Regions from separate parts of the Homo sapiens genome. Here region 1 is linked to region 2. Evidence: fine-mapped expression QTL. A gene starts in region 2. The other region holds a variant in brackets. All regions are shown on one strand. Distances are between the middles of the regions.

Region 1 (4,380 bases), 33 kb after region 2:
TGCTGGTATTAACAGGCATGAGCCACTGCACCTGGCCACCTGTGGTTCTTCTGAGAAGGGGCTCATTCAGTCAGGACCGGGGACCCTAGCTAGACTAAAAGTCTGGGTGAGCCAGGGGACTTCCAAACAACTGCAGCCCCAGCTGCTCCCGTTGACTCCCCCTGGGCCCTCCTTCCTCCCACTCCTTTTCCTCTGCACAGCAGGCAAGGTCCCAGGGAGGCAAGAGCAGGCCCAGGTGGGCCCAGGCATTTCCCCAGCCCCTCCAGAGGCCCAGGATGAACTGGCCTGGGATGAGGCCCTGCTAATGAGCAAAGGCTTCAGTCCACTGAGCAGTACATGGTAGCACAGAAGAAGGCCTGGTACACCAACAGCAAATTGCATTTCCTTCTCAGAACCCTCAGCTCTGGTCTGGTACCCCCAGGCAACAACAGCCTAGCGGGCAGACAGGACAGGAGGCCTGGGAGCTGTGCGTCACTCAAAGCCAGACTGGAGAGTGACAATTGCCTTCGCAGCTCCCAGCGGGTTTCGAGAAGGTAACATGACCAGGGAGCAGTTCTGCCTCCCTTCTGTCACCTCTGAACCTCACCTTGGCCCATGGCCCCTCAACCTTGACTGATGCTAAGTAAGCAGTCTCCTCCTCCTTATTCCCTGGCCAACCTGCCCAGCTCACAGTGGGGGCCTCAGCCAAGGGTTGTCAACTGCAGCCTGAGAAAGTCTTTCTCACTGACTTGCCCCAAGAAGGGATTCCACTCAGCTGACAATTATGAAGCTCTGGCTGGTCCCTGGTCCTGGGCAGGGGCAAAGCTGCAAAACAGCCCACAGGGAGCTCACAGTGCCTGTGGTAATGATGATGACGATGATGGTGATGATGCTGACAATGGTCATTATCATGGTGACGGGGTGGAGGACTTGGAGCCAGGAGACCTAATTACAAATGATAACTATGCCACCATTCAGCTGAATGACCTTGGGTAGGTTACTTACCCTCTTTGGTCTTGAGTGGCATTCACTATGACATGGGGTGGGGGAACCTGCTCTGTGGCAAGGGCTTTTTTTTTTTTTGAGACGGAGTCTCGCTCTGTCCCCCAGGCTGGAGTGCAGTGGCGGGATCTCTGCTCACTGCAAGCTCCGCCTCCCGGGTTCACGCCATTCTCCTGCCTCAGCCTCCCAAGTAGCTGGGACTACAGGCGCCCGCCACTACGCCCGGCTAATTTTTTGTATTTTTAGTAGAGACGGGGTTTCACCGTTTTAGCCGGGATGGTCTCGATCTCCTGACCTCGTGATCCGCCCGCCTCGGCCTCCCAAAGTGCTGGGATTACAGGCGTGAGCCACCGCGCCCGGCCGGCAAGGGCTTTTTTGAAATATTTGCCATAGAGCACTCTGCGAGGGTCCCAGGTGATACTGCACCAATGCCTAGTTCAGTCCCTGACCAGTGTGGTCCCTGACCAGCAGCATTAACAACTCTTGGGCACTTAATAGAAATGCAAATTCTCAGGCCCCAAGGCAGATCTACTGACCCAGAGACTCTGGGTAGGGCCCAGCAACTGCACATCTCACACTCTTGCCAAAGTGTGAGAACCCCTGGAATAAAGAAATGTCAATGGTGCTCTTGGGTCTCTTCACAGACGTGGCTCTGCTAGAGGACTGGCCTTTTGGAGCAGGAGTTCATGGCCCAGATCCATCTCTTAGGAGAAAGGATTGGAGAGTGGGACATTGAGAGGGAGGCCTTCTGTGCACCCCTTCATTCACCCACCAGAAAACCCAGGTCCACCATTGAATAAGCTCCTCCCCCAGTCCCATGCCTGCCCACGTGGCCCTGGCCTGACTCCACCCTGACCCTGCAGGCTGCACAAGCCTGGAGCCCTCCACCCTGGCCCCTGCAGGCCCCAGTCCTGCCGGCTCCTGCACCAGCCCCTCGTGTTGGCTATACTGCCATGGCATAGGTCCAGCTGGCATCCTGTCACTCCACTCCCTCCCCAAGGGCCCCAGGTCGACTGCTACACACCCACCGCCACTGCTCCCAACTGTGCTGCTTTGGGGGACTCCAGCATTCCTTTGCTCCCTCCCGCCCATCCTGTGGCTGTCTCTGCTGAGTCACTCTTTATTAGTGTCCTCCCAGACACCTG[G/A]CACAGGTGCCCCCAAGGGATTGGGCCAGAAGCCAATAGCAGCAATTGCTGCCATTTACCAAGTGCTGATTCTGTACTAAGAACGTGCGAGTTCCTTATATCAGTTATCCCACCACTCACAAACCTATGGATAGGGCCTCAGGACTCCCATTTTACAGATGGATGAATTGAGACTCAGGAAGGAAAGATCCCAGGGTCACACAGGGCCACATAGCCAGTGAGACGGGAGCCTGGGATTTGAACTCCTGCCTGTCCGGTTGCAAAGCCAGCTCTCTCTGTCACCCCACACTGTCTCTTCTAGAGAGCCCTGGGGAGGACGGGGGCCAGCCAGTGGGCAGCCTGGGAAGGGAGTCTCTGTAGCTGGAAATGGCCAATGTATTTTCTAGAAACAGGAAATCTAACATTGACCGTGAAGTTTGTTTCCTGGTCAGTTCTGTCTGTTCCCACTGACAGCCTCGTGATACTGACTTTCAGGGCACCCGATGAGAGGGGATGGAAGAAGGACCTCCCGCCTCTCCCCACAGGAGTGCTGGGTGAGCCCTGACTTTCCTCAGTGCTCGGATGCTGGGAAGGTGCTGGGGCCATTTCATTTGCTTGCTAAAGGAAACACTCAGGCCAGGGGGCCAGAGGATTTGGGGACATCAGGGCACAGAAGTAACAGGGGGCTTTCAAGCCCTTTCCCAACTCCTCCCCGAGACAGTGACCTGGCCTAATCCTGCAGCCCCTATGACCTCTCTGTCCCTGGGGTCTTGTGAGGGCTCCTGCAGCTGGGGAGCTATGCCTTCTACTGTGGTCCCCAGCCTGGCACAGACTCTCTTATGTGACTCCACCAGGGACTAGACTGGGGGCAGCTGAGTGCCATAAAAGAAGTTAATGTGGCCTCACGTTGGTGGTGAGTGAGGGGCTTTGGGTCTACCTGCCATCCTCTGCGTCCCCTCTGGCCTCCAGTTAAGTGACCCATCCCATTGGTCTCTGTCCACTGAGCTGACTGCCCCCCAGTACCCAAGACAAGTGCCACTGCTCCTGGTTCCCAGGTCCCTGTTTTGGGTGACCACCTCACCCCCTCCCTGCCTCAGCACCTCTGTGGCCCACCCCTGGGACTCCTGTGGGACACAGGCAGGTGTCATGGGTGGACAACAAGGAGCATCTCAGGTCCGTCCGCCTGGACGCCCCCCTCTGCCTCGGGATTTCGCTCAAAGCAGCCTCCAGCTCTTGGCCGCTTCCTCCCGCTGGTCTCACCCCCAACAAACCTCTCCCAGGCAAAGCATAGTGCTTTCTCCTCTGCCTTCCTGTCTCCCAGGAACTCACTTCCATTGTATCCAGAATTCCTTCTATTTATGGCTTACAGTAAAACTCTACGCTCAAAATCAGCCGGGATTGATTCCTTATATTTAGAAAGAAGCTTTGGAATTCAGAAAATTTTTTTTTTCTTAACAAAACCCGGCATTCAAGACTATTGTTTTGCCTAGAAGACAAAACAAAATGGAAAGCCTAATTTGATCGTCAAAGTGAACAACGAATTTATTATTGTAGCAGAATCCACCGCTTCCCTGAAGTACTCAAGCCATTGATTCAGTGGATGCCACAGAGCATCAAAATATAAGAGCAATTAAAAATACATGAGTTTTATTTTCTTAATTGTTAACTCCATATACAATGCTTAAAACTCTAAAAACTGGGCTTAATGTAATCTTAATTAGAATCATAAACACTATTTCAGAATGTATTTTAGATGTATATCCTTAAAAGTTTGATGCAAATATGATAATTTAGGGATGTGAGGCATCATATAAGATGCTTAATGTCTGTACCAGGAATCTGGACTAGGTTCGAGAATGGGAGATATTGACAACCTGGACTTGGTTCAAGTTTGCTTTTAATTTGATTTACTGCAGAAGCATCAAGGAAGCAATGCACAGGGGAAGGAGGTTGTAAGAAAGCTCCTGGGTGGACCATGGCTCCTGTGTAGCCCGCTGAATTGTTCTCTGACATGAGTAGTGTGAGACGCCAGCCAGGCTGGAGGGGCGCTGAGCTGCAGATGCGCCCCTTTTCTTCCCTGCCTCGTCAACACCCGGGTGTTAAGTTCTTGCCGCGTGGCACTGGGTGGTCCCCCCACATCTGAGGCTGCACTGCAGTCTCCCATTTATGCCCCTTGGGAACTTTACATGGACAGCTCAGGCATGGCCTGTCACACTGACAAGCAACCAAAATAATCTAAATAATAAAAGAAATGACTTAAAACAGTATCTTTTAG
Region 2 (4,380 bases):
CAGGACTGCCACTGCTCACAAATTCCAACAGTGTGATATTTGTGGCACCCATCCTTTTGTACCAAAAACATTCTGGAAATCCTTCCCAGGAAGCACAACCATTTTTTTATGTCCTTAATAGAGTGGTAACCACTGCACACATGCATAAGGGCTGTATGCACAGGTTGGTGCCCTGGAATCAGATGGCCTGGGTCCCAAACAACACTTCCCAGATGTGTGACCTTGGATAGGTCACTCAACCTGTGTTTGGATTTCCCACCCAGGAAGGGGAGAATGCTGGTAACAGGTTTGTTGTGAGCCTTTAAAACAATAAAATAATGCACGCTCTTTTCCCAGCAATGAGGAAACCTTAGAAATAAGTGTAGGGGCCAGGGGCAAGCCAACTCTGCTCCTATGCAATACTATTCACATCCTCCATTTTACAGATAAAGGGAGAGGTGCCCAGAGGCACAGTGAGCTGCCAGGGACAGCCCGCTCTTCAGGTTGGTCTCTGTCCTAAGTCCATGCACCTGGAATTCTCACTGGCCACCTTGAGCTGGAGATGACTGGAAGTGAAGAAACAAATACTCCAGAACAAACGCAGAAGAGCGGTGGCAGGTGGCTCGGCACACCAGGTATGGGTGTCCCCATCCTGGACAGGATTTCTCCCAGCACCGTGTGTGTGTGTGTGTGTGTGTGTGTGTGTGTGTGTGTCTGTGTGTGTGTGTGTGTGTGCGTGTGTGTGTGTGTTAGGATAGGGGTGCTGAATTTGATTTACAAGACAAAACAGTGTTGGGAAAGGTGTGGGGAGTGGGTACACATTCCTGCCCACTTCTGATTTGACAAATCCTATGCCCAACCTTGTATTTGGTATCATCGCCCACCCTATCCCAGCATGAGAGGCAAGAAACTGGCTCAGTAATTCTCAGGCTTTAGCAATTCAACGCCCCTACTTATCGTCCTAAAAATTTTTTTATTTTCTGACTTAAAGGAAAAAAGTAAAAAAAAAAAAAAAAAAAAAAAAAAGAGTCAATCCAGTTGCTGAGTGATGTTCAGACAAAGACAGCTGCCAGTCCATTGCCTGCGTTCACCAGCTGAGGAAGAGTACAGGCGGGGACTGGGTGTGTGTTTGGGGACGGCCTGGGCTCTCCGCTGCCTCTCCCTGGAGTGAGCCCTGTCAGGATCCCCCACCCGCCACCCTGCACTCCCCCACCACTGCAGTGCCGCGTGGGGAGGCACCTCCCTGATCCGCAGGAACAATGGGCTGGGGTGGGGGCAGGTGCGGCTTGGAGTGCAGCAGAGGGTGGGGGCCGCAGGCCCGACAGCAAGACAGGGAACCCAGCGCAGATGGTGGCTGTGCTGCCACTGGACTCAGTTTCTCCAGCTTTTGGGGCCCCGCAGAGCCAAGCGCTCGTTTCGTGGCTGAATCTCCCTTGCGTCCCGGCATTTTAATATCATCCTCGCAGGCGGCTTGCCTGTCGCTCCCGGGAAAGATGCCTGGGCCGCGCTCCTCTCCCCGGCGGCCGCTCTCGCCGAGGCCCTGCAGGTCAGGGACGCGCGGCGCCTCCATGCGCCCAACTTTCCCCACTTGGGACCCACAGGAAGACTGGAATCCTGGCCAGCCGGGCCCTCCGTGGGAGAAGCCTTGATTTACAGCCCTGGGCTCCGAAACCTGCTCGTCCTCTTCCCGCAACCCCCTTCCCCGTCCTCTCCGGCTCCCCCACCCTTCGGAGCCCTAATCACGCTCCCCAAAGAAAGCGGCCCTAGCACATCTGCAAAATGCGAGCGTCTGTCCTCCGCACTGGGTGCCTCCCCCTGCCCCCCGCAAGGAAGGGACCATCGAACCCCCGCCGCTTCACCCTTCCCCAGCCCAGTGAGTCCCTGGGGATGGGCGGGGAGGTGGGTGAGAAGCCCTTCGGCCGCAGCTGCAGCCCCCACTCCTGGCTCGAGCGTCCGGCCGGGGTGGGATGGGGCGAGGGAACAGGTCCAAATCTCCGATTTCCCCCAGGCTCCCACTCCTGCCTCGCTGAGTCACGAAAATTACCCGCTGGGGCCACCCGGCCACCCGGCGGCGGGCCCTTTACCCAGCCAGCGCCGGCCTCCGCAGCCCATCGCGCGGGGGCTGCACACGCGGGGCGGTCCTCACCCGCACGCGCGACCAGCCCCGCAGGAGGCGCCACCCGAGGCAGGGACCAACCAGGCGCCTCAGCGGGGGCTGCAGTCCCCGCCGCGGAGTCCGCACCCTGGCGGGGCGCAGAACATGTGACCCGCGGGCCGTCTCCGGTCCACCGGACCCCGGCCCCCGGCCCCGCTGCTGCTGACCCCGGCCCCGCCCGCCAGAACTGGATGCAGCGCGGGCGTCCCCACTTTTCCACGGCGCGCGAGGGGGTGCGGAGCGTTGGGCCAAGCGCGCCTCCTCCCTCCCTGCCCCGCCAGCCGCGGCCGCAGGACCCGCAGCCTGCGCTCACCTCGGGGCCCGTCGCTGCCGCCGGCCTCCTTGTCCGCCATGGTCGCGCAGCCCCGGACCGCGAGGGGAGCCTCCAGCGCAGCGCCCGTGCCCGTGCGGGTCTCTGTCCGCGTCCGCGGCGGCGCTCGGGCCGTGTCTGAGCCGCCGGGCAGCGGGAGCGCTGCTCTGACGCGGCAGCCGCCGCAGCCACGGCTCCTCCCCGGGCCCCGCCCCGGCCCGCCCGGCGCCCCGCCCCTCCGAGCTCGGGCCGGCCGGGAAAGGTCGGGGAAGGCGGGCGCGGGGAACTGCCTGGCTCCGGAGCTGCGCTCCCCGCCCGCCCAGAGCGGCCCGCCGAGGCCCGGCCTCTCCTCTCCCGGCTTCGGGACCGAGCGGTCGCCCCGCAGTCGACCGCGGCGGGGGTAGTGGCGCGCCCGGGGCTGCGCTGCGGGAGCGGATTTCAGGCCCTCGGGGCCCCGCGGCGCGTCCCCTCTTTGGAAGTCACCGAATGGCCAGGCCTGGAGCCCTTCAGCAAGCCCAGCGCGCCCGGCGCTCTCCCGAGGACGCCCGCGCCAGTCCCCACCAGCTTCTGTCTGTCCCCCAGGGTCCCAGGGGAGCGGCCCTGGGCCGGCGCAAAGGCGGGCTGGGTGGACCCCGGCGCGGGCAGGACCCAGGCCGCAGACCAAGGACCTGCGCGGGGGCCGAGCCCGGGGCACCGCCTCCAGGCCGCCTGCGGGACTCCATGGCAACTCCGGACCCAGGGAGGTGCTTGCCCCGGAGGCTGAGTCGCGCCTTCCATATATGGGATCCAGCTGGGCCCTCCTTAGAAGTCTGAGAATAACGATATTAATAATGCAAGGCTTCAGTTGTGAATGATTCATACTCCCTGTCCCCAGCTCCTCCACACACACGCGCCGCTGGCACCTGTTTGGGCCTGGCCAGGCACCCCCTGGGTCCGCGGTGTCACCACCCTGCCTTGGCAAACGAGGGCAGTAATAGGAATCCGAGGAGCACCGTCACTGGGTCGTTTCCGGGTGCCTGGCACTGTGCTACCTGCCTGGTGCTTTACCTCTATCTCCTTTCCTCCCCATAACTAACATTTTGCAGATAAGGAAGCTGAGGATCGGCAGGGTTACAATATCACACCCAGCAGGTGAGTCGCGGAGCTGGGATTCCCACCCAGCTGTAACCACCAGCATCCCTCACTTCCAGAGATGGGTGGCATTTCCCAAAGATCACCTAGGGGAGGCTTCATCGTACAATCCCGTTCTGGATGACGGAGTGGGCAGAGAGCTGCTGCGAGAGCGTTATGGATGACGGAATGGGCAGAGAGCTGCTGCGAGAGCCTGGAGACCAGAAGGTGATGGCAGAGTGACAAGTTCAAAACACAAAACTTGTCTTCTGTCTGCCTGCATTAAAAATCCCAAATGGACAGTTCCTGGCTGTGCATGAAACCACAGTCAAGTTATTTAACCTATCTGAGCCTCAATATTCTCATCTGCGAAATGGGTATAACAGGAGAACCCACTTCATAAAACTGAAGATTAGATAGACTATGCATGTAACATGCTTAGCTTGGGATCTAGCACATGGTAAAAATCATTAAGTCACTGATGGCCCCCGAGGGCCCTTCCTGCCTACGTGCCTGCGACAGCCTGCCCACAGCTCCCCCGCCCTCCTGTCTCACCCCTTCAGTCCATGCTTTGTGATCTGGTCTGTCCCCACCCTACTCCAGCTCCAGCTACAGCCGCTCTGATTCTTCAATCCCTCTCACCCACCCCTGCTTCTCTTATGCTGGTATTTCAAAGACATGAAAATGTGCTTGATGCCTGGATCACCCGTCCTCTCATTTCACCACCACCAGCAACCTAAGAACTTCTCCTTCTCATCATGGACTGCCCAACTCCAGGAAGGCTCCCCTGCATACCCATGCTGGCCAGGGGGGCCCTCCTCAGTGT

Evidence for each region. PIP is the estimated chance that this variant, and not a neighbour inherited with it, causes the effect.
Region 1: its variant is the best candidate, but not a certain one, in a credible set for the expression of HSPA12A in unexposed skin (GTEx, PIP 0.86).

What each region holds. Positions count from the first base shown.
Region 1 is chr10:116,772,966-116,777,345 of GRCh38, forward strand. LOC105378498 (a long non-coding RNA gene) reads right to left here and starts at 1,035. Exons shown (of 3, transcript XR_946339.2): 1 at 587-1,035. It also overlaps a transcript of HSPA12A not described here. RefSeq lists an enhancer at 1,911-2,410. The variant G/A (reference allele first, on the strand shown) is at 2,127.
Region 2 is chr10:116,739,983-116,744,362 of GRCh38, forward strand. HSPA12A (heat shock protein family A (Hsp70) member 12A) reads right to left here and starts at 2,584. Exons shown (of 12, transcript NM_025015.3): 1 at 2,448-2,584. The coding sequence starts at 2,487. RefSeq lists enhancers at 2,449-3,153, 3,154-3,857 and a silencer at 2,449-2,898.